Linked DNA regions of Homo sapiens. The protein of the gene in region 1 purifies or fractionates together with the protein of each later gene. This does not show direct contact. Each region holds a gene or a part of one and is shown on either strand. Other genes may lie near its edges.

What was found. Proteins that work in one complex are often made in the same cells at the same time.
Region 2: the proteins of TMC7 (region 1) and HLCS purify together in Homo sapiens (affinity purification with mass spectrometry; 2 studies listed by BioGRID and IntAct, with this or other methods). This does not show direct contact.
Region 3: the proteins of TMC7 (region 1) and ZFAND2B purify together in Homo sapiens (affinity purification with mass spectrometry; 2 studies listed by BioGRID and IntAct, with this or other methods). This does not show direct contact.

Annotation. Positions count from the first base shown.
Region 1 is NC_000016.10:19,035,922-19,042,961, forward strand, and holds part of TMC7 (transmembrane channel-like protein 7), read left to right. Parts: intron 1-1,952; coding exon 1,953-2,126; intron 2,127-4,367; coding exon 4,368-4,525; intron 4,526-7,040. UniProt on the Homo sapiens protein: Acts as an inhibitory modulator of PIEZO2 mechanosensitive channel in dorsal root ganglion (DRG) neurons through physical interactions or interference with the interaction between PIEZO2 and the cytoskeleton.
Region 2 is NC_000021.9:36,748,110-36,753,693, reverse strand, and holds the end of HLCS (biotin--protein ligase), read left to right. Parts: 3' UTR 1-5,068; downstream 5,069-5,584. UniProt on the Homo sapiens protein: Biotin--protein ligase catalyzing the biotinylation of the 4 biotin-dependent carboxylases acetyl-CoA-carboxylase, pyruvate carboxylase, propionyl-CoA carboxylase, and methylcrotonyl-CoA carboxylase.
Region 3 is NC_000002.12:219,202,474-219,209,797, forward strand, and holds ZFAND2B (AN1-type zinc finger protein 2B), read left to right. Parts: upstream 1-4,308; 5' UTR 4,309-4,514; coding exon 4,515-4,569; intron 4,570-4,853; coding exon 4,854-4,948; intron 4,949-5,174; coding exon 5,175-5,306; intron 5,307-5,413; coding exon 5,414-5,565; intron 5,566-5,782; coding exon 5,783-5,875; intron 5,876-5,952; coding exon 5,953-6,013; intron 6,014-6,098; coding exon 6,099-6,166; intron 6,167-6,503; coding exon 6,504-6,576; intron 6,577-6,788; coding exon 6,789-6,833; coding exon of another isoform or gene 6,834-7,149; 3' UTR 7,150-7,175; downstream 7,176-7,324. UniProt on the Homo sapiens protein: Plays a role in protein homeostasis by regulating both the translocation and the ubiquitin-mediated proteasomal degradation of nascent proteins at the endoplasmic reticulum.

The DNA of each region.
Region 1 (7,040 bases):
CAGGTTGTCCCTGGTACTTAGCAAGTTACCCCTCTGTAGCTTTCAAGAACGTTTCACAGCGAACACGTTACTGGGGTTGATTACCCTAGACCTGAACAGGAGCACTGGTGAACTGGGACTGGGAAGTGGGGTGGGGATGCAGTGGCTGGAAGAAGGTGATGTCTTTCCCCACACCCTGCTACTTTACACTGTTATTTTTCCACCTGAGGAGGACCTGTCATAAACACTACTTATACCAGGAGAAATGGGAGTGAGGAGGGAATGTTATGACAATAGTGTGAGATGGAGAGTATATGAAAAAGTACAGACCGGGCGTGGTGGCTTATGCCTGTAATCCCAGCACTTTGGGAGGCTGAGGCAGGCATATCACAAGGTCAGGAGATCGAGACCATCCTGGCTAACACGGTGAAACCCCATCTCTACTAAAAATACAAAAAATTAGCCAGGCATGGTGGCACATGCCTGTAGTCCCAGCTACTTGGGAGTCTGAGGCAAGAGAATCGCTTGAACCGGGAGGCAGAGGTTGCAGTGAGCCGAGGTTGCACCACTGCATTCCAGCCTGGGTGACAGAGCGAGACTCCGTCTCAAAAAAGAAAAAAAAAGTACAAGAGAGTTTCCAACCATCTCTACTAAAAATACAAAAAATTACTTGGGCATGGTGGCACATGCCTGTAGTCCCAGCTACTTGGGAGTCTGAGGCAAGAGAATCAATTGAACCAGGAGGCAGAGGTTGCAGTGAGCCTAGATTGTGCCACTGCATTCCAGCCTGGGTGACAGAGCTAGACTCCATCTCAAAAAAAAAAAGTACATGAGAGTTTCCAAATGAATAAGGAGAGAAAGGAGTAAAGAATAGCATGTTAATAAAAATAAACCCATCAAAGAAAAGGAGGAGGGGACAAATAAATCAAAAGCATAATAAAATGGAAGGAATCAAATCAAATCTATTCTTTCTTACACTAAATACGAACTGATTAAATTATCCTAATAAAAGCAGAGACTACTACATTGTGTAAAAGAAAAAATAACAACACCTCACCTGTATTGTGTTTGAAGAAATGACACATACTATATTTAAGTAATATGAATAGTTTATAGTTCTGTTTTCACATTTATTGCAAAGCCCAATTGCAGTCTTAAATAGGAGGTTCTGTCTTTACTTAGGTCTTTAGTAGACATAAAAAATAGTTGGGCTAGGCCAGGCGCAGTGGTTCATGCCTGTAATCCAGCACTTTGGGAGGCCGAGGCAGGTCAGGGTCAGGAGATTGAGACCATCCTGGCCAATATGGTGAAACCCCGTCTCTACTAAAATTACAAAAATTAGCTGGGCATGGTGGTGCATGCCTGTAATCCTAGCTTCTCGGGAGGCTGAGGCAGGAGAATGACTGGAACCAGGGAGTCAGAGGTTGCAGTGAGCCGAGATTGGACCACTGCACTCCAGCCTGGCAACAGAGCGAGACTCTGTCTCAAAAAAAAAAAAAAAAAGAAAGAAAAAAAGTAGTTGGGCTAAGTCTAGGATGGTTTCTTGGGGGAGATGAATATTTAAAAGATGTCTTTTTTTTTTTTTTCTGAGATAGCATTTTACTCTGTCACCCAGGCTGGAGTACAGTGACGTGATCATACATCACTGCAGACTCGAACTCCCGGGCTCAAGCAATCTTCCACATCAGCCTCCCGAGTAGCAGCGACTACAGGCACTCATCACCACACCCAGCTAATTCTTCTGGGTTTTCTTGTAGAGATGGGGTCTCACTATGTTGCCAGGGTTGGTCTTGAACTCCTGGGCTCAAGTGATCCTCCTACCTTGGCCTGCCACGGTGCTAGGGTTACAGGAGTGAGCCACCATGCCTGGCTAGAACTCTTAAAGATGGATGGGGAGAGAATGATGAATCAATTTCTATCCCTGAGTATCCCTTCATCCCACTGCTCACAAGTGAATTTTCTTTTATCTTCAGGCAGATCTGGAGGAAGAAAGAATGCGGCAGAAAATAGCAGAAAGGACCTCAGAAGAAACAATACGCATTTACTCTTTGAGACTGTTTTTGAACTGTATTGTTCTGGCTGTTTTAGGGGCATGCTTTTATGCAATATACGTAGCAACTGTCTTCTCGCAAGAGCACATGAAAAAGGTAAATTAACTTGTACTCTGGCTGGACATTATGCCTAGTGCACTGAAAATCTGTGAGGTAGATACCATCGTCATTTCTGTTTTACATATGGAGATACAAGTTTGGCTGATATGATCAAGACCTGAAAATCAGAGGTGATCAGTTTCCACTTTTTTATTTTTTTTTGAGATGGAGTTTTGCTCTTCTTGCCCAGACTGGAGTGCAATGGCATTGTCTTGGCTCACTGCAGCCTCTGCCTCCCAGGTTCAAATGATTCTCCTGCCTCAGCCTCCCGAGTAGCTGGGATTACAGGCATGTGCCACCACGCCTGGCTAATTTTGTGTTTTTAGTAGAGACTGGGTTTCTCCATGTTGATCAGGCTGGTTTTGAACTTCTGACCTCAGGTGATCTGCCCGCCTCCACCTCCCAAAGTGCTGGGATTACAGGTGTGAGCCATTGTGCCCTGCCCAGTTTTCACTTTTAAGAGAACTTTTTTGTTTTTGTTGTTGAGACAGAGTCTCACTCTGTCGCTCAGGCTGAAGTGTGGTGGTGTGATCTCAGTTCACTGTAACCTCCACCTCCCAGGTTCAAGTGATTCTCATGCCTCAGCCTCCCTAGTAGCTGGCATTACAGGGATGTGCCACCACACCCAGCTAATTTTTGTATTTTTAGCAGAGACGGGGGTTTCACCATGTTGGCCAGGCTGGTCTCGAACTCCTGACCTCAAGAGATCCACCCACCTTGGCCTCCCAAAGTGCTGGGATTGCAGGTGTTAGCCACCGCACCTGGCCTTAGAGAAAATTTTAAAAGCATCTAAAGTGTAGTGTTTGAGATCCTTACTGCTCCTGGAATTTGCAATATTCAAAACTAGGCTGGACTAGGGTTTTATCCCTGACTGTTATTTTTGAACTAAGGCCTTGGTTTACCTAAAATAGCAGTGGTTTTAAAATTCCAAGTTTGTCTAGTGGCTCTGTTTTATGCAATCAATCATCAGGGGTCCAGGTTCCGTTCATCTTGTGGCTCTGCCCTCCCTAGGATATGGTTTTCTTTTCTTCTTTCTTTTTTCTTTTTTTTTTTTTTTTGAGACAGAGTCTCACTCTGTCACCCAGGCTGGAGTGCAGTGGCACGATCCCGGCTCACTGCAACCTCCACCTCCCGGGTTCAAGTCATTCTCCTGTCTCAGCCTCCCGAGTAGCTGGGATTACAGGCACCCGCCAACACACCTGGCTAATTTTTGTATTTTTGGTAGAGACAGGGTTTCACCAGTTTGGCCAGGCTGGTCTTGAACTTCTGACCTCAAGTGATCCACCTGTCTCAGCATCCCAAAGTGCTGGGATTACAGGCATGAGCCACCACACCTGGCTGGGTATGGTCTTCTGTATGGTACAAGATAGCTCACCACCATGGCCACATTCTAGCCAAGGGGAAGGAGATGAAGGGGCTAAGGAGGGCACATTTCTTCCTTTAAAGGGCATAACCTGTGGGTTACACTAAAAACTTCCACTTATATCCCCTTGGCCAGAATTTAGTCACATGGTAGTACCTAGCTACAAGGGAGGCTAGGAAATTTACTTTTTATTGCGGATGGCTATATATTGTCCAGGTAGTCTGTTACTGTGAAAGCAGGGAATTGCTATTTCAATTTCAAATCAAATCAATTCTACACCCTTGAAGATACTTTAAATTGCCCGTTTATACAGAATACATGGGTCTTCTTATACATCCCTTTAATAAATCCAGTAGATCCTGGTTTTCTTCCTGCACAGTACTAGATACCTCTTTTTGAATATCTGAAGAAGGAGATGGCGGCCGGGCGAGGTGGCTCATGCCTGTAATCCTAGCACTTTGGGAAGCCAAAGCGGGTGGATCACCTGAGGTCAGGAGTTTGAGACCAGCCTGACCAACATGGTGACACCCTGTCTTTACTAAAAATACAAAAATTAGCCTGGCATGGTGGGGGGTGCCTGTAGTCCCAGCTACTCGGGAGGCTGAGGCAGGAGAATCGCATGAACCTGGGAGACGGAGGTTGCAGTGAGCCGAGATTATGTCCCTGCACTCCAGCCTGGGTGACAGAAGGAGACTCCATCTCAAAAAAAAAAAAAAAAAAAAAAAGGAACGAGATGACTTATGCTTACAGGCCATGTTGAATGACAAATACGTTTTGTTTGCCCAACACACATAGTTGAGTTCTTTTTTGTTCTATCTATTTGTGGTGTAACTTCCTCATATACTCCTGACTAATAAGTTTTGTTATCCTCCTAGGAAATCGACAAGATGGTTTTTGGAGAGAACCTCTTCATATTGTATCTACCGTCTATTGTGATCACGCTGGCCAATTTTATCACCCCAATGATCTTTGCCAAGATCATCCGCTATGAGGATTATTCTCCAGGCTTTGAGATCCGTCTGACAATCCTTAGGTAATGCCTAACATGAAGATGGCAGGCATGTCAAGCCAGTCACTACCTGCCCACTCTCTTGCCCATGGCAGACATCGCTAATCAATTGTAGTGCATTTTCCTGCTGAGCCAAGAGTCCTCCTCAACCTTCAGACAGCCCCCATGAATGAATCAGAATTTGTATATATGGTGAAATGTCTTTGATTTGAAAGTCTACTCCTTGGTATTATATTTTTGCTTCATATAATAGCACAGGGCACAGGCTGGGACCCTGAGAGGAGGGGTTGCTCTAAAGCTGTCAGAAATGACAGCTATAAGGCAGAGTCCAGGGAGTTAACACAAATGAGTGGAGAGGACCAGGTGGGACTGTGCAGGACTTGAGAGTTTTCTTTCTGTTTCTCAAATGCCTTAGATTGCATTTGCATCTTATTTCAAACATTTTTTATTTTGAAAATTTTCTTTGATTCTTTTTTTTTTTTTTTTGAGATGGGGTCTTACTCTGTCCCCCAGGCTGGAGTGCAGTGATGTGATCATAATTCACTGCAGTCTCAAATCCCTGATCTCAAACAATCCTCCCACCTCAGCCTCCCACATAGCTGGGACTACAGACATGCACCACCATGCCCAGCTAATTAAAAAAATTTTTTTTTTTGTAGAGACAGGGTTTTGTTATGTTTCCCAGGCTGGTCTTGAATTCCTGGGCTTCAGTGACCCTCCCACCTCCAGCTCCCAAATCCTGGGATTACAGGCAAGAGCCACCATGCCCGGTCTCAAAGTTTTCAAACAGAATGCATAGTGTAATGATCCCCATATGCCTTTCACTTACATTTCAGTCATTCCCAGCATTTTGCTAATCTCGTTTCCATCCATTCCCTCCTAATTTGCTAGATTATTTTAAGCAAATCTCAGGCAACATGCCATTTCATCTGTAAACACTTCATTATACCTTTTTTTTTTTGAGACGGAGACTTGCTCCGTTGCTCAGGCTGGAGTGCAGTGGCGTGATCTTGGCTCACTGCAACCTCCACCTCCCGGGTTCAAGCGATTCTCCTGCCTCAGCCTCTCAAATAGCTGGGACTACAGGCACGGGCCACCATGCCTGGCTAATTTTTTAAAATATATTTTTAGTAGAGATGGGGTTTCACCATGTTGGCCAGGCTGGTCTCGAACTCCTGACCTCAGATGATCCACCCACCTTAGCCTCCCAAAGTGCTGGGATTACAGGCGTGAGCCACCGTGCCCAGCCAACTTCATTATATCTCTAAGTGATGGGAGCTTTAAATATATAACCATCATCACACCTAATAAAATTGAGGCGGTCTCCCCAGTGGGGTTGCAGATGGTTTTCCATGTTTGATTTGTTCAAAGCTGAATCCAAACAAGGCCCACATGCTGTTTGGTAGTCATGTGTCCTAAATCTCTTTTATTATTTTCAGAGTTTCCCCTCCCCTTTTGTTAGGCCTTTGATTTGTGGAAGAAACTGGATCATTTTCCTGTAGAATAGCTCCTATTCTGGATTTCGTCCATTGTTTCTTCCTGGTGTGTTTAATTTGTTTTTCTATGCCCATAGTTGCTATAAATGACTGTGGAGATTCAGAGTTTTTGGTAGATTCTGTGTCAGTTTTTAGTTAAGGAAACCTCATCAGGGGTGCCGTGTCCTTCCTGTTGTATCCCAGCAGAGGCACAGAAGGTGGTGTTAGTAATGAGAACAGTGAGCAGAGGGCGTGGGTTCGCTCTTTCCCCCATTCTTTTCTTTCCATTTTATTTATTTATTTTTTTTGAGACTGGGTCCAGGCTGGAGTGCAGTGGCATGATCGTAGGTCACTGCAGCCTTGACCACCTGGGCCCAAGTGACCCTCCTGCCTCAGTCTCTCGAGTAGCTGGGACTACAGGTGCACACCACCATGCCAAGCCAATTTTTAAATTTTTTGTAGAGACAGGATCTCCTCACGTTGCCCAGGCTGTTCTCAAACTCCTGGGCTCAAGCAATTCTCCCACCTCAGCCTCCCAAAGTGTTGGGATTACAGGCTTATGAGCCACCATGCCCAGTCTCCCTTATTCTTTAAATTATTCCTTCTTTTTTTTTTTTTTCTTTTTTTTGAGACGGAGTCTCACTTTGTCGCCCAGGCTGGAATGCAGTGGCTCGATCTTGGCTCACTGCAAGCTCCGCCTCCCGGGTTCACGCCATTCTTCTGCCTCAGCCTCCCGAGTAGTTGGGACTACAGATGCCCGGCACCACGCCCGGCTAATTTTTTGTATTTTTTAGTAGAGATGGGCTTTCACCATGTTAGCCAAATGTTTCTATTTAATTTATTTTTTTATTTTTATTTTTATTTTTCGAGACGGAGTCTCGCTCTGTCACCCAGGCTAGAGTGCAGTGGCGCGATCTCGGCTCACTGCAAGCTCCGCCTCCCGGGTTCACGCCATTCTCCTGCCTCAGCCTCCCAAGTAGCCGGGACTACAGGCCCCCGCCACCATGCCCGGCTAATTTTTTGTACTTTTAGTAGAGATGGGGTTTTACTGTGTTAGCCAGGAT
Region 2 (5,584 bases), on another chromosome or scaffold:
TGTGGCCCCATAGCGAAGTCTAAATGCCTGTAGAGATAGAGCTAGCTGGTGTGGTTGCAGTGACCTTGTAGAGGAAATCAGTTCATTACTTTGACATCATTCAGTGAGCTCTCCTTTCCTAAGGAAGTTTAAATGTCCTTAGTTAGGGACTGACTTTCTTAAGTAAGTTTAAATTTACTACATATTGTGAAGAGACAGGATCAAGTTCAGAATCCTTAAATGTCTGATTAGGCATCACTTGGATGAGGAGGTGGGCGATTTGGCTCTGACAGCTGGAGATGAAGGCACACTCATACCACATACAAGGGAGGATTTGGAGCTTTTAAGCCAGTTTCAGATTTACTCTGAAATGTGGAGCATTCCTGCAAGACTGTGCAGCTCACGGAATATAGAAGACATGGCATTTTACTCAGAAGTCATAAGTTTTTGCCCCCCTCATTTACCTCGTATTACCAAGAAAGAAAATGTTATCGATACTAAACACCATCAGTTCAGAGGGAGGATGTGTGTGTGTGCCCGCATATGTGTGTGCGTGCGTGTGTGCGCACATAGCTTTAAAAGAAGACATTCAAAATTTGATGTGCTACAAGCCTCATGAAAGAACAAAAGAAATGAAGCCTTTTGATATGCATTCGCTATTCCCAGATGTACGCCATGCCTTTTCCATGTCCCTCCTATCTCTGTTGAACTTATGAATCATACTCATTACTTTTCAGCTTTTTAAAAGGCCAATTTTTGTCCAGTTTTCTCTCTTCCAGTCCCAGCTGAAATTAGTGGAAAGAAAGTTTGATGGAGCTTTCAGCTTTGAACAAAATCCCTTCATTGTAAACTAGCACCATCTTTATCCAGGTCTTACCCAGTCAGGCTAATTCCAGAAACTTGTGGTTTTTAGTATAGTCTGTCTACCTTTAGCCAGGCACAGGACAGCCCTATGAAAAAATACCCAATATATATTTTTTGGAAATGAAACATTAAAAGAACTTAAAAAGTAATTTTTGGAAATGAGGCTTCAATTAGAATTATTTTTCTCAAAAAACAAACAAACAAAAAACACAAAAAAAACCACTCTTCTCCAAATGCCCAAGCCTTCTTTCAAAATTAGTTAGAAACTTAAGTAAAATACAAGTCCACACCATCCCCAAATTACAAAATGGACTTACCCTTGAGAGGGCATCTGCAGAATATCATCAGGGACAAAGATCTCGAGGCTAACGATGTAGGTTTCATTTCTCAGACTTTGTAATATAAGGCAAGCCCTCTCTCAGAGCTGCCATCATCACTTTTTGAATTTCTTTGGGGGTTATTTAATGAAAAACATGCTATGTTTTGTTTTAAGCTGAAGTCCTATTCTGGACACTCTGCTTTGGGAAAAAATGTTATCATTTAATTTCCTTTCTGCAAATTAAAACTAATGAAGTGTGGCCTTGTCAAAGGCTATGGAGATGTTCCGGGCATACTGCTGTGCTCTGTGCTTTCCAGCAGGCGCTCCTCCCTCACGCAGGAGACTCAGTTGTCCTGAGAGAGATGAAGCAGCCTTGAAGCAGATGCTGCGTTTTCCATAAACCTGATTTTGCCTCACATGAACCAAAGACTCTCAAAACTCCGCTTCTATAGAATTAGCTGAATAAAGGCATTTTACTGATAGCTGTTCGTGTTAGCGAAACCTGTCTACCTGCTATAGCACACTCTCCGATTTGGGCCATTTATGCACCCCGCAACCTGGGATCTCAAGGAGCTTTAAAGTCTTAATGGGAACTTGGCATTTTCCTGATGATCTTTAAAATGTGGTCACTAAACTCAGGATTGGCGTGTGCTTTTAGAACACTGGAGTAGCCCTTGTTTTAGAGGCTGTGCATTGAGTATCGACCGTATTTTGTAAAAGGCAAGATATCCTCCCTTCCAGGCTGGTAACGGGTTTCAAGGGGACTCTTGAGGAAGTGCCCCCTAAAATAGAACACAGCAATAACTGGGCTTCCTGTCCCCACCCCCACCCCAGCAGTGCTCTCTGGCACTGGGAACTCTGCTAGGGAGTGGTGGAAGTAGGAAGGATTTGTGTGCAAAGGAAAATCGTGGTTGAGTTTCACTGCAGCAGGCTGACGTTGCCTGATGTGAGAGCAAGTGGCCGACTGGGGTGCGGGTGCACAGGTCGGGGGAGCACAGGCCACAGAGCGCAGCCTCTGGGGGTCCCCCAAGGCACAGCATATACAGCATGGTCGCCCCTTGCCCTGGAGTCTGGGAACAAAGAGAGGAGCCAGCCTCCCCGCACTGCTTCAGATGGAAAAGGGAGGCAGGGTGGGCTTCCGTTCTCCAGATCTGTTTGCTCTTAACAGGCAGAACATGGGAGAATCCTTATTCCTGGTTAATCACTATGCATATTTGAAATAAAAGAAAGCGTAAGCCTCTGCAATTTTAACTTCTCAAAGGATGTCTCTGAAAAGAATCACTTTAAACCAATGCCTATAAAAAGCAAGTCTACCAAAATAAACTAAGACTTTCTATGTGGTTTGGGCTCCCTCTTATTTTTACAAGTTTCATTTTTAAAAGTAGGCAACTACTTTGGGTTACAGTATTTTTATTCATATTTAAACATTTTTACAAAATAAATAAAGTGTTTTACATAGTAAGGAATATGTACGTATTTCCAAGTATTAAGAAGCCAAGTGTTTTTTTTTTTGACGTATTATTGACAAATGTATTCAGCGCCATACACAAGAGAAATATTATTACTCCAAAGAACGAAAGTTAACAAAACTCCAAAGCAAAAACCCTTTTAATGGAGGTGAGAAATAAATTTAATGTAACAACAGCTAGATTGTTTTTAGGATTTTTCTTTTCTTTTGTGGAAACTTCTTGACTTGACTTTTCATCTGAACAGTTTTTCCCCCCAAGATTTTAATCTTATATGTCATACTTAAGTTTAGGAACAGCTTGAATAATTAGCATTCTAGATAACACAAGGGCCATGATTCACTAAAATTCCAAGCTACTGTAATTTTATGGCATTTATTTGCAAATGTTCTTTGTATCTCATTTTATCTGTAGCAGTCCCCACTAGTCTACCTTAACCATCTTATAGCTCTGGTAAATTAAAACTTACGTAGACTTTATACAAGATCCATTGGCCGTATTAAACCTCCCCCACTCTTAGGGCTTAGGGCGGAAGGGACGAAGGCAGGGCTGATAGGACTTTTAAAAGGATAAAAGGAGTGGGGGCAAGGGAGGCGGAAAATACAGGCTCTTGCAGATACCCTCCGCGCTGCCCTCCACACCCAGCCCACTGCTCTACAAAGGTATGAATGGAATGGCTTTTCTAGAAAAGGGCTTCCAAGAACATAAAGGAATTCCTTTCCCTGGGAGGCCCCGTGGAGGGCTGAGCCAGCCTTGAATTGGGCTTATTTCTCAAATCCATTTGATCTGGCATTTTTGTCAACATGGTACATGTTAGGGCCTACGATGATTTTTTTTTCTTTTTTGTAAAAGAGAGGCATATGTATTAAAATGCTTCCTCTTCCCCTGCCGGAGCCTCACAGAAGTCAAGAAACGCTATCCCCAGCTTAAATGTGCAGACTCTTCAAGATGGAGGTCACAATATTAGGTTGCCACAGTAACAGCTCTGCTGACTTCACACTCAGCCCTGGCCGTCCTGAAGCCAGCTCGTGTAAGAATCTTCCTTCATGTTCTAGGTTATGAAAACGAAGTTTGTTTAGACAAGGACGTTTTCACTAGTACACATTTTCAAGTACATACACACTCTGTTACGCCTGTCCACGTTGTCACTTGTAAATCTATGATAGGGTCTTTTTTCTCAACAGTAACCTTTGTTATTGAACTGCTCCGATAGCCTTGATTTATTTTTACTAAATACAGCCCCAAAAGTTAATAACAAGGTAGACACAAAAGCATTTTGCAGTACTTTATTGAAAAATGTCGGTGGTATCTCCTAGTAATCAAACCTACACCTTTCAAGAATCACGGTTTAATTACAAGACTCATGAACATAAAAAAATAATACCCTCGGCTTATTTCCTGTGCACACACTCACAAGGAGCTGTGAATGAGGTATAGCTGAGTGCGTGGAGAGGCGGGCACATCCCTTCCTACCATCCAGCCCCTTCGCTGCATGACCCACGGTCCTAAATTTGCAAATTGTGACTCTTACCATGAGGCCCACTGACAGACACCCTGTAGGGATTGTGTCAGGTCCTCACTAAGTGACACAGGGTTGGCAAAAAAAAAAAAAAAAAAGTCAGTTCACATTTTGAGAGCAGTTGGTGTAGGTGCACTTGATTTTAGAACGATGAGTTTAAAACATTTGTGAAAACCTCTTTCCATTCAGAAAGGTGGAAAAAGTTTCCTAAAATAAACCATTTTGATAAAGCAGCAAAATGCTGCAGTGTTGATAGTGTGAAGAAAATTGAAGGACGGCGGTTCAATGCATTGTGCAGTTCAGAGCCATGACAGGATTTTTCCATGTTGAGATCTTTAAGCAAAACCCATAAAAAGTAAAAATTAATGGAAGCTCATTTTTTAAACACTGCTGGTGCTTTATGAAAGGATTTCTGTTTACCTGTTGCACACGTAACATGTTCTTACGAAGTTTTCTCGCTGTGTAGAAAATGCTTAAAATGTCTACATCATTTTCATTACACCCCCTTAAGCATGTTTTTCCTTCACAAGGTGCAGTCCATTGACAGTGTTCCGTATTGCACGTGCAATTTAACTTTATTAGCACTATTTGTAGCAAACACGAGCCTAGTGAATTACAGATCTGTGTGGGCCAGAGGGATTTTGCCACGTAATAATGAAGCTTGACAGGGTCATTCTCATAAACTGTCTGGCTACATATATATTTTTGCATTTAATGCCTATTCAATATATTCTGAAGGTGCTACTCTTGGTGTTATCAAGAGTTCATAGGGGTTAGGGGGAAGTAAGAGCTTGTTAATGTATTTGGGAAGCACACCTATGTTCACAGACACAAAATGGAATTGCATGGTCACCCCCTTAGTCTTGGTTTGTTGGCTTTTTGTATTGAAGAAAGGGTTAAATAAAAACAAAAATAATGAGACTCTTGAATGACTTTTAAAGACAGTGGAGTTGTGTATTCATGGGACTTACAATCATCACTTCTGCCTTCACCTAAGCATCTAAAAGGGCTCGTGACACAGGCGTCCCCTCCCAGGTCTGCCGTCCACTTGGAAGAGCGGACTGTGGTAGGGTGGGTTTTCCCTCCTGAAAGTGGAGGATATTTGCGGAGTGAAACCGCTTCAATCCCCCAGCGGGACTGTTGTGGAACGTTGGGGACAAGGCAAGACGCGTGAAGCCCGATTTCAAGGTGAGGAAACCAAGCCCCCAGCAACTGGGTCGCACCGGCCCTCGCAGGACAGAGGCGGGCGGTCACCTGCCCGGACCCGGGCGCTCCTCGGCCCTCGGCACCGGCGCGCGGGGCCTCCGCGGTGGAAATCCGCAAGTCGGCGGCGGGGTCCAATTCAAACAGCTGTCTCTGCATAAATTAATGTAGGTCGTGCGCATTTGCCGGGCTCGGTGGCGCCGCAGCCCCGGGAGGCCGGGTCCAGGCTCCTGG
Region 3 (7,324 bases), on another chromosome or scaffold:
GAACCCAGGAGGCAGAGGTTGCAGTGAGCTGAGATCATGCCACTGCACTCCAGCCTGGGCGACAGAGCGATACTCCATCTCAAAAAAAAAAAAAAAAGATTCCTCTTTTCAGTAGTTAAGGAGGGTCCAAGAGTAGATTTTTGGGAGGCAAATTTGTATGATGGAAAGAACATAGAACTGAAGACAATACAAAAATTTAGGTCCAGATTCTGACTTCGTAGCAAGTAATTTAATCTCTCTCAACTTCAGATTTTTTATCTGCAAAATGGGGATACATGATATCTTTTTCAAAAGATTTTCTTTCTTTTTTTTTTTTTTTTTTTGAGACAGAGTCTCACTCTGTTGCCCAAGCTGGAGTGCAGTGGCACAATCTCGGCTTACTGCAAGCTCCGCCTCCTGGGTTCACGCCATTCTCCTGCTTCAGCCTCCCGAGTAGCTGGGACCACAGGTGCCCGCCACCACGCCCAGCTAATTTTTTGTATTTTTAGTAGAGACAGGGTTTCACCGTGCTAGCCAGGATGGTCTCGATCTCCTGACCTTGTGATCTGCCCGCCTTGGCCTCCCAAAGTGCTGGGATTACAGGCGTGAGCCACCGTGCCCGGCCTACTTCAAAGGATTTTCACAGGGGATTAAATAAGCTAACACATGAGGAAGAGCAGGACACAACAATAAGTGCTAGTTTTTCTTTCCATTTCTTTTTTTTCCTGTTTCTTTATTAATTGAGACATAGTCTCGCTCTGTTGCCACCATGCCTGGCTGATTTTTGTATTTTTAGTAAAGACAGGGTTTCACCATGTTGGCCAGGGTGGTCTTGAACTCCTGGCTTCTGGTGATCTGCCCACCTCAGCCTCCCAAAGTGTTGGGATTATAGGCATGAGCCATCGTGCCTGGCCTTTTCCTTCCATTTCTATATGCACTGTTTCACTAAGAGTCAATTGAGAGGCGGAAAACCACTGAGACAAATACCATTAAACTAATATTCAAGTTGAATTGGAGCCAAGACACCTTTTCTGGCTATCCTCAGTTTGACCTTGTCTGCTTTAGACCTGCTAAAGCTAAAATAACTGGCGTCTGGCTATGACTATGCCTGCGAATTTTAGAGGAACCTATGTCTACTGTCCCAATGAGAGGCTGCAGCTCAGTTACCCACAGCTAAAGCGCAAGGCTGCTTAGCAGGTCTGTGTATGCTTTGTTGGTCTACAATAAAAGAGACTTAAGTAATGCTCAGTTGTTAATTGATATCTCCTAAAATAGCTAATTCAAGTTGCAAAATGTTATTTGATTTCTCTCTCAGTGTTCTCCTGGCTTCTTTTATTCAGGAAGCAAGGAGGCTACATTGGGGAATGGTGACTTTGGTTTGTGCGGGCACTCTTTTTAAATCGTGGGATGAGAACATCACCCAGTGAGAAAGCCCCTGGGCTGGTAATCAGCACAGAGAGCTTAGTCAGGACTATAACCCATCAGTCAGAAAAATATTTGCCTGGGAAGAGAGATACTACCGTGAGAGCTTCATTCACTTTTATCGTGGTCGCTGGGGTCTCTGAGGTAAGTCTGTTATGGCATGATATGGTCTGGATATGTGTCCCCTCCAAATCTCATGTTGAAATGTATTCCCGCCGGGCGCAGTGGCTCATGCCTGTAATTCCAGCACTTTGGGAGGCCGAGGCGGGCGGATCACGAGGTCAGGAGATCGAGACCATCCTGGCTAACACGGTGAAACCCCATCTCTCCTAAAAATACAAAAAATTAGCCGGGCGTGGTGGCATGCGCCTGTAATCCTAGCTACTTGGGAGGCTGAGGCAGGAGAATGGTATGAACCCGGGAGGCGGAGGTTGCAGTGAGCTGAGACTGTGCCACTGCACTCCAGCCTGGGCGACAGAGTGAGATTCTGTCTCAAAAAAGAAAAAAAAAAAAAAAAAAAGAAAAGAAAAAGAAATGTATTCCCAATGTCAGAGGTGGGACCTGGCAGGAGGTGATTGGAACCTGAGAGTGGACCCCTCATGAATGGCTTAGTGCCATCCTCTTGGTGATGAGTGAATTCTCACTCAGTTCACATCAGATCTGGTTTTGAAAAGACTCTGGGACCTCCCTCTTCTCTCTCTTGCTCCCACTCTTGCCATGTGACATGCCTGTTCCCCCTAGGCCTTCTGCAATGATTAGAAGCTTCCTGAGGCCTCACCAGAAGCTGAGCAGATGCTGGCACCATGCTTCCTATGCAGTCTGCAGAACCATGAATAAATTAAACCTCTTTCTTTATAAATCAACCAGCCTCAGATTTTTTTTTTTTTTTAAAGACAGGGTCTCACTTTGTTATCCAGCTGAAGCACAGTGGTACAATCATAGCTCACTGCAACTTCGAGCTCCTAGGCTCAAGCAATCCTCCCACCAAAGCCTCTCGAGTATTTGGGACAACGGGTGGATGCCACCATGCCCAGCTAACTTTTTAAAAATTTTTTTTGTAGAGAGGGAGGTCTTACTATGTTGCCCAGGCTGGTCTCAAACTCCTGGACTCGAGTGACCCTCCCACCTTGGCCTCCGAGGGATGGGATTACAGGCATGAGCCACCATGCCTAGCGAGGTATTTCTGTATAGCAACATAAGAACAAATGACTACATTTGCACTTCAAGCATTCTGGCTCATGCTCAAAAATGAGATCCGAAGATTTTTATTTTTTGAGTTCCACAAGGCTTTGGTTATCTGAGCATTTGTAAAGTGGGAGTGGGGAGAGAGGCAGTGTTTATCTTTGTTTAGTCTGCTCCATACACGTTTCTCCAAACTGAAAGCCTACAATTCTTTCTATTTTTGTAGAGACAGGGTCTCACTATGTTGCCCAGGCTGGAACTCCTAGGCTCAAGCGATCCTCCTGCGTCAGCCTCCCAAAGTGCTGAAATTACAAGCGTCAGCCACCATGCCGGGACTGGAAGCCTACAATTCTAAATTGTACTGATGAATATAGAGAGGAAAAAAAATGAATAAACAAAATTCTTAGAACCAAATGATTATAATGAGACTGGGAAAAAATTATTTGAAATCTGACAGTTATATATTGAAACAAAATAAAAGCATTTATAAAGTCCTGGATGCAATTTAAAATAAAAAGAATATTGGCTGGGAGTGGTGGCTCATGCCTGTAATCCCAGCACTTTGGGAGGCCGAGGCGGGCAGATCACGAGGTCAGGAGTTCGAGACCAGCCTGGGCAACATGGTGAAACGCCGTCTCTAAAAATACAAAAATTAGCTGGACGCAGTGGTGTGCACCTGTAGTCCCAACTACTTGGGAGGCTGAGGCAGGAGAATCGCTTGAACCCGGGAAGCAGAGGTTGCAGTGAGCCGAGATCATGCCACTGCACTCCAGCCTGGGTGACAAGAGTGACACTGTGTCTCAAAAAAAAAAAAATTATATTGGTCAGGTGTGGTGGCTCACGTCTGTAATCCCAGCACTTTGGGAGGCCAAGGCAGGAGGATCACTTAAGGCCAGGAGTTCGAGACCAATCTGGGCAACAAAGAGAGACCCCTCCCCAACCCCATTTCTACAAAATTAAAAATTAGCTGAGCACGGTGGCTTGTGCCTGTAGTCCTGGCTACATTCAATAATTACTAAGAATATTCTAGGCTAGGGTTTTTCAGAGTGTGGTGCATGGCAATCTGTGTCAGAATTCCTTCAGGTGCTTCCTACTGAATTAGAAGCTCCAGGGCCCGGAAATCCGCATTTTAAACTAGCTCCGTAGGCGATTTGGATTCACACTAAAGACTGAGGACCACACTGTTCTAGGCACTGTTAGGTGCTGGGACCTAACACGAAACAAGGTAGACGTGGTTCCTGATTTCCCAGTATGCTCATATAGGGGTTGGTCGCATTAGTGATATGGGTGCTAGAATGGAAGAAGTAAGATCACATAGCAGGTGCGCCTAGTTCAGACTGAGGAGGGATCTGCAGCTCTAGAGACGTCTGTACTTCAGAGAAATACAGGAGCTGTCAGCTCGTGGAGGCGAAGGGCAGCCGTGGCCGTGAACAAAATGGCCAGGAGGAGGGCATCGTGTGTGAAGCGGGCTAAGGACCGAATTGTGAAAGACCCCAAACCACCCAGCCTTCCATCCCCCAAGATATCCGTCTTTGCCTTCGCTGGCCTTCCTCTGCGGAGCTACGCCCGCGCCCAGGGTGGCGGAGCCGCGCATCAACACCCTCTCGCCTCGGGACAGTCTTCCGACTCAGCCTTCTAGAGCAAGGCGAGGCGGGGCGGGGCTCAACCGAGGCCCTCCCCGGCTGCCCGGAGACTGCGCCGGACGCGCCAGCCCTGCGGGATGACGTCAGCGCGCCGCGCGCGCCGAGGGAGGAGCGGGCGCCGGGGGCCGGCTGGCGCGGGGGCTCCGGTAACCCGGGCTGGGCGGGGGAGAGGAAGGGGCGGGGCAGGGAGCCCGCCAGAGTGCGGGGTCGCGGTGCGGACTTCGAGCACGAGCCCTAAAGACGCTCAGCACTCGTCGCTTCTCCTAGCAGACCCTGCCCGGCTTGGCGATGGAGTTTCCGGACCTCGGCGCTCACTGTTCGGAGCCGAGCTGTCAGCGCTTGGGTGAGGGGCGGAGCGCGCGGGGGGCGGGGCCCAGCGGACAGGGACTTTGAACCGCAGGTTGGGAGGGAAGGGTGGGCTCCCAGGCTGGCAATGCCGGGGGGCGGGGCTTGAAGCTGGGGGGGGGTGGTCAGCGGCAGAGGGGGCGTGGCCAAGGAGGTAATGGGCTTGGGAAGGGGCGGTGTGTCGAAAATAGGGTGGCGTTTTCCTTCCCGAGTGGAAGACTTGAGTGAGAGAGAAGGACATCGAGGTCCCGCTGGACCTGCAATCCGACCAACTCTTTGCAGATTTTCTGCCGCTTAAGTGTGATGCCTGCTCAGGCATCTTCTGCGCAGACCATGTGGCCTACGCCCAGCATCACTGTGGATCTGCTTACCAAAAGGTGAGGGGGCGATCCTCAGGGTGAAAGCAGGCAGATGGAGAATGCGTGCAGAATCCCCCAAATCTGTGTCTCACGTTTCTTCTCCCTTTTGTCCTTCTGAGGCTGTCAGTGCTGGGAAACACTGTTTTTTTGCGTGTTTGTGGTGGGTCATATCCAAGTTCTTTCAGGACCAGAGATTTGTTGGACTGGAGTGGGCCACAGACTGACCCTTGCTCCTTGACTACAGGATATCCAGGTACCTGTGTGCCCTCTCTGTAATGTGCCTGTGCCTGTGGCCAGAGGGGAGCCCCCTGACCGTGCTGTGGGAGAGCACATTGACAGAGACTGTCGCTCTGATCCAGCACAGCAAAAACGTAAGGTAAACATTGTAGGGGTCAGCCACAACCCAGCTGGGACTACGGATGCCTGGAAACCCAAACAGCTAATCAGAGTCTCAGCAGAGACAACCTTCTCACTTCACCTCAGATCTTCACCAATAAGTGTGAACGCGCTGGCTGCCGGCAGCGAGAAATGATGAAACTGACCTGTGAACGCTGTAGCCGAAACTTCTGCATCAAGCACCGGCATCCACTGGACCATGATTGCTCTGGGGAGGGGCACCCAACCAGCCGGGCAGGGTAATGGCAGCCAAGTCCTCCACTTGCTTTTGGGAAGCATTCTTTTGGAACTGACTCAAGCTCTGTTGTTATAAATTGGGGAGCTTCAACCCTACCCTGTCGGCTAGGGGAGTCTTTTAGCTTCCTTTTCAAGTGCATGTTTTTCCAGAACTCCCCTCCTGACTTCCTGGGTAAGGCTAGTTCTTGGAGACATGCCAAAAATCTCTCTTCCCTACAGACTTGCTGCCATCTCCAGAGCACAAGCTGTGGCTTCTACAAGCACTGTCCCCAGCCCAAGTCAAACCATGCCTTCCTGTACCTCTCCCAGCAGGTAGGCCTGCCCGTTTCCCTGCTCCCCCTTTTTCCCCTTCACACCTCTGACCTCCACCTCTTCAATGTCTGTCGTAGAGCCACAACCCGATCTCCGTCCTGGACAGCCCCTCCAGTGATTGCTTTGCAGAATGGCCTGGTGAGTTGGGCAGAGGTTGGATGGACAGAAACAAACACACAGAGAGTGAAGTCCAAGGACGCTGGTCTTCTTTCTCCCTTTGTAGAGTGAGGATGAAGCTCTGCAGCGGGCCCTGGAAATGTCCCTGGCAGAAACCAAACCCCAGGTTCCAAGGTACCTTACCCTCTTGTGAAAGAGAGCGCAAGCTGTGGGCAAGGGCTTGGTCTGGAGGCAGGTAGGTGGGACCACTCTGACACAATGCAAGATAATCGCTGGCAACTTGGTCTCAAAATTAAGATGAACTATATGATCTTTGACAAGTTATTTAACCCATGGAGCCTTCATTTCCTCTATAAAACGGGGACAATACTAATACCCACCTTGTAGTGTTGCTATGAAGATTGAGATAATCCTCAGCAGTGCTCAGCACCATGAGGCCCAACACACACAGATCAGATGTTCAAATTTCAGATCTTACCATCATCCAACTTAAACTGTTTCTCCCTCCCAGTTGTCAGGAGGAAGAAGACCTAGCTTTAGCACAAGCACTGTCAGCCAGTGAGGCAGAATACCAGCGGCAGCAGGTATGAGGCTGGGCTGAAGATATATGCTGCAGTGGAAGGGAGGAAGAAGTCAGGGATGGGGGTTCTTCCTAGTGGTGCAGAGTTTTGGAATGGTGGTTATCGTCTGGTTTTCAGTATGACTCCAGCCCATGCTGAGCTCTGAAATGAGGGCTGTCCCTCATTTCCTTGACGTTGCACTGTGTCTTCCCCTCCTTCCCCTCTCTTTGCTCTAGGCCCAGAGCCGCAGCTCGAAGCCGTCCAACTGCAGCCTGTGCTAGGGCCCTGGGCTTGGGGAGGGAGGTTCACCTGAGGAGGACTGTGGCCCTCACACCTCTAGGGTACACAGGGAGAGGAGGCCCGGAGCACCCTGGAGGGCAGAGACAAGCGGGAGTGATGTGGAGGTCGCCCTGGGAGCCTCTGGAAGGCCTTGCTAGTGCTCCAGCTGCATGGAAGAGAGCGGCTAGCAACTGTTCCCTGGTTGGGCCCTCAGTGGATGCTGGCCAGGCCCTACTCTTAGCCCCTTCATCATGTCATCTCCCTTATGCTGGAGCTGCCCCGATGTGGAGTGGGCAGGAAGGGGCCTGGAAAAAATAAAGGATCTTGGCAGTTGATAAAACGTACAAGTGGTGTGTTTCTCTCTCCTCTCTAACCTCAAACAGGAAAGCCGTGTCAAGAATGCTCATCTGACTTATGGGTAGAGGCCCGCTGCAGTACCCCATCCCACAAAGCCACAGTGATCCTCGCACAGTCCACATTTTTATTTCCCCAA